2 linked regions of the Homo sapiens genome follow. The protein of the gene in region 2 purifies or fractionates together with the protein of the main gene of each other region. This does not show direct contact. Each region holds a gene or a part of one and is shown on either strand. Other genes may lie near its edges. The genes, in order: GSTO1 and ATOX1.

Region 1 (3,819 bases), on a different chromosome or scaffold from region 2:
TTTTACTCAAATTAGCAAAATAAATTGAATTTTATGTTGGTTCTCATATAGTGGATAGTGGACACAATTCAATTAGTTGCCTCATATGATTTATAACTAAGATACCTCTTAGCCATAAATGGAGTATCTTATTGACAATTTTGAAGCATTTCCACAGATTTATTCATTCATTTATATGAAATATTTCAAAACAAAAATATTTACTGAGTCCTTATTTGAAACTTTTTATTTTCTTCAGAGCATTTATATCTATATAGCATTTTGCTCATTTACATGTTTGTTTATTACTATGAACAGATACACAAGATCCCACCTTTCGTGAAGCTTACATTCTAGGAAGATAACAAACTTGTAAATAAGTGAGCAAAGTAATTTCAGATACATATTATCAGTTCAATGAAGAAAGTAAAACATGATAATCATGTAATAGAAGCTGCTCAGCAACTTCAGAGCTATGGTCAGGGAGGGCCTGGGGATGTGTGTTTGACCTGGGAAGACCTGGGAAAAGGCAGGCAGAGGAGGCAGAGGACCATCAAGTGCAAAGACTCTAAGGTGGAAACACATTTGGCAAATTCAAGGAATATAAAAACCGCCAACGTGTAAAAGAAAACATAGGGGAAAAGCTTCATGACACTGGCCTTGGCAATGATTTCCTGGACATGACACCAAAGACCAGGCAACAAGACCAAAAATAAACACATGAGACTACAGCAAACAAGCTTCCACACAGCAAAGGAAACGATTAACAGAGCAAAAAGGCAACCTATGGAATAGGAGAAAGTACTTGCAAACCACATACCTGGTAAGGGGTTAATCTCCAAAATACATAAGGAATCTCTACAACTCAACAACAAAAAAACCTGATTTTAACATGGGCTAAGATCTTACATAGACACTTCTCAGGCTGGGCATGGTAGCTCACGCCTATAACCCCGAGGCAGACAGTTCACTTGAGCCCAGGAGTTCAAGACCAGCCTTGGCAACATGGCAGAATCCTGTCTCTACAAAGAAATTAGCTGGGTGTGATGGTGCACGCCTGTGGTCCCAACTACTCGGGAGGTAGGAGGATCGCTTTAGCCCAGGAGGTCGAGGCTGCAGTGAGCTGCGATCAAGCCACTGTACTCCAGTCTGGGAGACAGAGTGTCAAAAAAAATTAAAAATTAAAAAAATAGACATTTCTTCAAAGAGGATATAAAAATGGGCAACACATATATGAAAAAGTTCTTATCACTAATCATCAGGAAAATGCAAATCAAAATCACATAATAACCTCACACTTGTCAAGATGACTATAATGAAAAAAGACAAGTGTTAGCAAGGATGTGTAGAAATCAGAACCTTTGCACACTGTTGGCGGGAATGTAAAATGGTACAGCTGCTATGGAAAACAGTATAGATGTTCTTCAAAAAATTAAAACTAGAACTACCATGTGATTCAGCAATCTCACTACTGGGTATATATCCAAATTAAATGAAATCAAGTTCTCAAAGAGATATTAGCACTCTCACGTAGACTGCAGCACTGTTCACAACAGCATAATGTCAATGTCCATCAGCAGATGAATGGATAAAGAAAATGTGTTAATGCTATTCCACCTAAAAAGGAAGGAAATTCTGCAATATGTGACAACATGGATGGACATTGCGGACATTATGCTAAGTAAAATAAGCCAGACACAGAAAGACAAATACTGCATGATTGTTCTTAAAAGGTGTATCAAAAGTAGTCAGATTCATAAAATCAAAAACTAGAATGGAAGGAATCTAGGCAGACTCCTAAATTTGGGGTCTGATCAGCTAAGTGGATGGCAAAGCCAGTGAGAATTTATCCAAAAGCACAAAAGTTGTTTCCTTCTCTTCATAGTCTCCTATGTGTCTTTCAGGCATGAAGTCATCAATATCAACCTGAAAAATAAGCCTGAGTGGTTCTTTAAGAAAAATCCCTTTGGTCTGGTGCCAGTTCTGGAAAACAGTCAGGGTCAGCTGATCTACGAGTCTGCCATCACCTGTGAGTACCTGGATGAAGCATACCCAGGGAAGAAGCTGTTGCCGGATGACCCCTATGAGAAAGCTTGCCAGAAGATGATCTTAGAGTTGTTTTCTAAGGTTTGTGCATAAGAAATTTCAGCTCCTATTTGAAAAACCTGTTTTTTAAAGCGAAATCAGTGCTGCCATTTATGGTTCAGTGATTTGGGAGAGAAAAACAAAACAGGAATATGCTTGTCAGCTCTGAGTGTCCTGCAAGTCCTTTCACGATCCAGTTCCTGTTTACCTCCAAAATTATCCCTTTTCACTCGTCTCCTGACACTTTATATATGCCAGCCATACTAAACTTTTCTCAGAATTCCCAAATTCGCCCCTTTCTCTTTCAATTCTTGCTGTCAGATTCTTCCCACTTCTCACTGTGCCTGGTTATCTCCACGTCATTTTTCACATGTCTGCTCCGACACTGCTGCCTTTTCAGGAGCTTGGCAGGCTGGTTAGTGCTCTAGCTTCTGAGTTCCCATCCGTGTGAACTTTTGCCTGCCTTCTTGCCTGTGTACTGCACTGGGGCTGTGAGCTCCTTGAGGGTGAGGGCTGTGTTTTGATCACTGTTAGTTCACTGCCTAGTTTTATGACTGGCTCTGCTACTTTCTTGTGACTCTGAGCAAGTTACTTATTACTTTGCCTCTCCGTTCATCATTGGTAAAATGGATATAGTAATTGTTCCCACCTCATAAGATAAAAATCAGTTAATATAAAACACCCAGAACAGAGTCTGACACATGGGAACTACTTAATTCTTGTCCTTATAGCCATAGCATCAAGCAGTGAGCATCTACTTTGTGTTGGCAATAACTCAGATGACTGAATAAATAGCAATCCTGTAGAAGAACTGTTTGTACCTTACTTAGCATCAACACTGTGGATTAGTTCAAACAATTAGTATTAACAAAGAAATGACTAAAAGATGTGTGTTTAGACACCAAGAATAGCATGTCTGGTTATATGCCTATAACATTGTCACCTTGGTAGTACGGTCAGTATATAAAGGATTATCTTTAGAGAAAAAGATGGTTAAAGAAATGCCCTAAGAGAGAGTTATAGGGAAAACATTCTGTTTTAGGAGACATTATAAAGGGAAGCCAATGGGACAGGAAGAGTGAGTCATCTGCTTAGTAAGATGAGGGTGAAAGAATAGTAGAGGCGGCTGCTGTGAAAGATAATGTAAAGGGAACATGACATTTTCAAGAACGATGTGGGAGAGTTTTACAAAGTAGTAACAAGTTAAAGGCATGCAGCTTCAAGACACGAAGTCATCAATACCAACCAAAAAAAATAAGCCTAAGTGGTTCTTAAAGAAAAATCTCTTTGGTCTGGTGCCAGTTCTGGAAAACTTTTTTTAGTATGGCTGGAATATAAAGTGTCAGGAGAAGAGATAAAAGGGGTAACTTTGGAGAGGTAAACAGGAACTGGATCGTGAAAGGACTTGTAGGACACGTCAGAGAAAATGAGCTTTAAAAGTAAAGCTTTTAGACATGAAGCTTTACTTTCATGCATAAAGCTACTACTTTAAAAAGTAGTCACAAGAGATTCATTGTACTATCTAGAAAGAAAATGAGATTTAAAAGTAATGCTGAAGATGCCCACCTTTACTTCCCTGCTTGGGTTTTAAAGGAGAGGTGGCTTTATGTACATATGACCCTGCTCTCCTGGCCACAGCCCATCAGAACAGAAATGTACCCCACCCCACACACCTGGGCCAGTTATCTTCTCTCCTGGGAACTTGGAAATGAGACACAGAACTAAGACAGTAAAGGTTAGGACAGTAAAGACAAC
Region 2 (3,819 bases):
GCCTCTGAGAATGCGGCCCTTGGATGAAAGCAGAATCACCTGGGGTAATGAGTAGACATAACAGATTCCCCAGCCCAGACCTGCTGACCAGAACCTGTAGTTTTTGCAAGCTGTAGGTGACTCTAGTGCAGAAAATAATTTTGTGGTTCATAAGTGGGCCCACCAGATCAGCATTGCTCAGAGTATGGGGGCCCATCCCTGTCAGAGTTACTGGTGGCCCTGAGACAAAGCTCATAGCTCAAGAATCAGTGTTTTGAAGGTAGGACTGGGAAAAAGCATTTTAAACTAGATCTCCAGGTGATTCTATTTACTATGTGCCAGACACTGCTAAAGGATTTATAGGGATGATTCCATTGAATACAACTTGTGAGGTAGAAACTCTTAGCTACTCTATAGTTGAAGAGACGGGCTCAGAAACAGGCTTCTGATGAGTCTGATGCCAACCAGGTCCTGCCCAGTCTCTCTGTCTTCTGTCTTGACCCTGAGTGGGCCTGTCTGCTGGCACTGTGTGGGGGTCACTCTACAGGGCTCGGGTCATGGTCCCCCTGTGTTTGTTTCAGAAGCACGAGTTCTCTGTGGACATGACCTGTGGAGGCTGTGCTGAAGCTGTCTCTCGGGTCCTCAATAAGCTTGGAGGTGAGTGAGTGGCCCTGAGTTGGGTGCACTTATGCCATGTTCAGATGCATGCAGATGTTGCAGGAGAGACTTAGGGTTAAGCTGATCATAACAGTAAAACTAAAATATATTGAGTACTTAGCACGTGCCAACTACTCTTGTTATTTTCTTAGTGGCTTATGTGAATCACATCATTTAATCCTCACCACGGCCATTTCAGATAGTTTTTTTTTTACTAGCTCCATGTTAAACAGGAGACAGCTGAAGTTCAGAAACATTAAATAACTTATCTGGGATCACATGGTCAGTAAATGGCAGAGCTGGGATTTAGCCAAATTAACTAGTACTGCCAGGAGTAGCTCTGGAGCCATGGCAGTACTAGTTCATATGTTGGTCATCTCCAGTGTGTACTGCATGACACATCTGAGTGTCATTTTCTATTGAATTTTTTTTTTTTTTTTTTTTTTTGAGACAGAGTTTCGCTCTTCTTGCTCAGCCTGGAGTGCAATGGTGCAATCTCGGCTTGTTGCAACCTCCGCCTCCCAGGTTCAAGCAATTCTCTTGCCTCAGCCTTCCAAGTAGCTGGGATTACAGGCATGCACCACCACGCCTGGCTCATTTTGTATTTTCAGTACAGACGGGGTTTCTCCATGTTGGTCAGGCTGGTCTCGAACCCCTGACCTCAGGTGATCTGCCCGCCTCGGCCTCCCAAAGTGCTGGGATTACAGGCGCGAGCCACCCTACGCAGCCTCTATTAAGGTTTTTTAAATGGGGCTGGGCACGGTGGCTCACACCTGTGATCCCAGCATTTCGGAAGGCTGAGGCGGGCAGATTGCCTGAGCTCAGGAGTTCCCGAGACCAGCCTGGGCAACATGGTAAAATGCCATCTCTACAAAAAATACCAAAAAAATTAGCCAGGCATGGTGTTACATGCCTGTACTCACAGCTAATTTAGGGGGCTGAGGTGGGAAGATCGCTTGAGCCTGGGAGGTTAAGGCCACAGTGAGCCTAGATCGTGCCACTGCACTGCAGTGGGGGCAACAGAGCAAGACCCTGTCTCCAAAAAAAAAAAAAAAAAAAGAAAGAAAAAAAGGAAAGATTTAAAAAAAGGTAAAAATTTTTAAAATTTTGTCTTTTTCTGTTTCTTTACTTCAAAAAAAAAAATTTAAATTAATTTTGAATCACTCACATGCAGATTTTTTTTTTTTTTTTTTTGAGATGAAGTCTCACTCTGTTTGTTGCCCAGGCTGGAGTGCAGTGGCATGATCTCAGCTCATTGCAGCCTCTGCCTCCTGGGTTCAGGCGATTTCCGGTGAATTTTTGTACTTTTCATAGATATGGATTTCACCATGTTGGCCAGGCTGGTCTTGAACTCTTGACCTCAAGTAATCCGCCTGCTTTGGTCTCCCAAAGTGCTAGGGTTACAGGCATGAGCCACCGCACCTGGCCACATGCAGATATTCTTAAAGCACCTCTTTTGAACAATCAGTCTCATCCAGCCTTGTCATTTTACAGCTGGGGAAACTGAGGCCCAGAGAGGACTGGGATCTGGTCCTGGGACTCAGTGAGGTAATAACTGAGTTGTGATCAGAGTTTTGGCAATGCCAGTGCTCAGTCAGCCTTCTAAGATTTTTTCTTTTCTTTTTCTTCCACATGAACTATCACACAATCTTCTAAAATTTTCTTTTTTAAAACCCTAAATAATAATGACATTAAGTTTTCAAATGGCTTCCACATGGACGTGATCTCATTAGCAGTCCTCTGAGCTGTACTTTCCATCTTTGGAATGGGGATGTCGATGCCAGTGTCCAGGAGGTTAAGTGACTTGCCCGTAGTCCCGCAGCAAGTCAGTGGCTGGCCTCTAGCCCTGTAAACTGGGATCTTAATCTGAAAGAAACTGAAACAGTGGAAAGAACCTAGCTGCTGACTTGTCATGTGACTGTGGGCCCTTCTTTCTCGGGCCTGGGTTTCCCCAGCTGTGGTATGGGAATGTATATCTTGTATGTCTGTATCAGCTTTTGCTGTTGATGCTTTTTTTTTTCTTTTTCTTTTTTTTTTTTTTTGGAGATGGAGTTTGCTCTTTCACCCAGGCTAGAGTGGAGTGAAGTGGCATGATCTCTGCTCACTGCAACCTGCTCCACTCTGCCCCGGGTTCAAGCGATTCTCCTGCCTCAGCCTCCCGAGTAGCTGGGATTATAGGTGCCCGCCACCACGCCTGGCTAATTTTTTTTTTTTTTCTGAGGCAGAATTTCGCTCTTGTTGCCCAGGCTAGAGTGCAATGGCGTGATCTCAGCCCACCGCAACCTCCACCTCCCAGGTTCAAGCGATTCTCCTGCCTCAGCCTCCTGAGTATCTGGGATTACAGGCTCAGGCCACCATGCCCGGCTAATTTTGTATTTTTAGTAGAGACGGGGTTTCTCTATCTTGGCCAGGCTGGTCTCAAACTCCTGACCTTAGGTGACCTGCCCACCTTGGTCCCCCAAAGTGCTGGGATTACAGGCGTGAGCCACCGTGCCCAGCCTGTTGATGCTTTAAAAATGAAACTGTACAGGAGCTCCTCAAATACAAAGCAGCAGGCTCTGGATGAAGTGGGGATGGGCCTAATTTCGTTTGACAGCTCAAAGACATCTACCCATCCCAGGAACTTCATCCAGGCTGGAGTGCAGTGGCGCGGTCTTGGCTCACTGCAGCCTCAACTTCCCAGGCTCAAGCCATCCTCCCACCTCAGCCTCCTGAGTAGCTGGGACTACAGGACCACACCCGGCTATTTTTTTGTTTTTGTTTTTGTTTTTTGTAGAGACAGGGTCTTGCTTTGTTATGCAGGCTGGGAAACCATATGTTTTGTTTGTTTGTTTGTTTGTTTTGAGAGGGAGTCTCACTCTGTCTCCCAGGCTGGAGTGCAGTGGCATGATCTTGGCTCACTGCAACCTCTGCCTCCCAGGTTCAAGTGATTCTCCTGCCCCAGCCTCCCGAGAAGCTGGGATTACAGGCACATGCCACACACTGAGCTAATTTTTGTATTTTTAGTAGAGATGGGGTTTCACCACGTTAGCCAGGCTGGTCTTGAACTTCTGACCTCAAGTGATCCACTCGCCTCAGCCTCCCAAAGTGCTGGGATTACAGACATGAGCCACCACGCCTGGCCAACCATATGATTTTTAAGGCCCCTTGCTGGAAGATCTGCCTTTAAGCTTCGGCAGGTTT

What was found.
Region 1: the proteins of ATOX1 (region 2) and GSTO1 fractionate together in Homo sapiens (co-fractionation; one large-scale study listed by BioGRID). This does not show direct contact.

What each region holds. Positions count from the first base shown.
Region 1 is NC_000010.11:104,257,693-104,261,511, forward strand, and holds part of GSTO1 (glutathione S-transferase omega-1), read left to right. Parts: intron 1-1,883; coding exon 1,884-2,106; intron 2,107-3,819. UniProt on the Homo sapiens protein: Exhibits glutathione-dependent thiol transferase and dehydroascorbate reductase activities. Has S-(phenacyl)glutathione reductase activity. Also has glutathione S-transferase activity.
Region 2 is NC_000005.10:151,748,521-151,752,339, reverse strand, and holds part of ATOX1 (copper transport protein ATOX1), read left to right. Parts: intron 1-560; coding exon 561-636; intron 637-3,819. UniProt on the Homo sapiens protein: Binds and deliver cytosolic copper to the copper ATPase proteins. May be important in cellular antioxidant defense.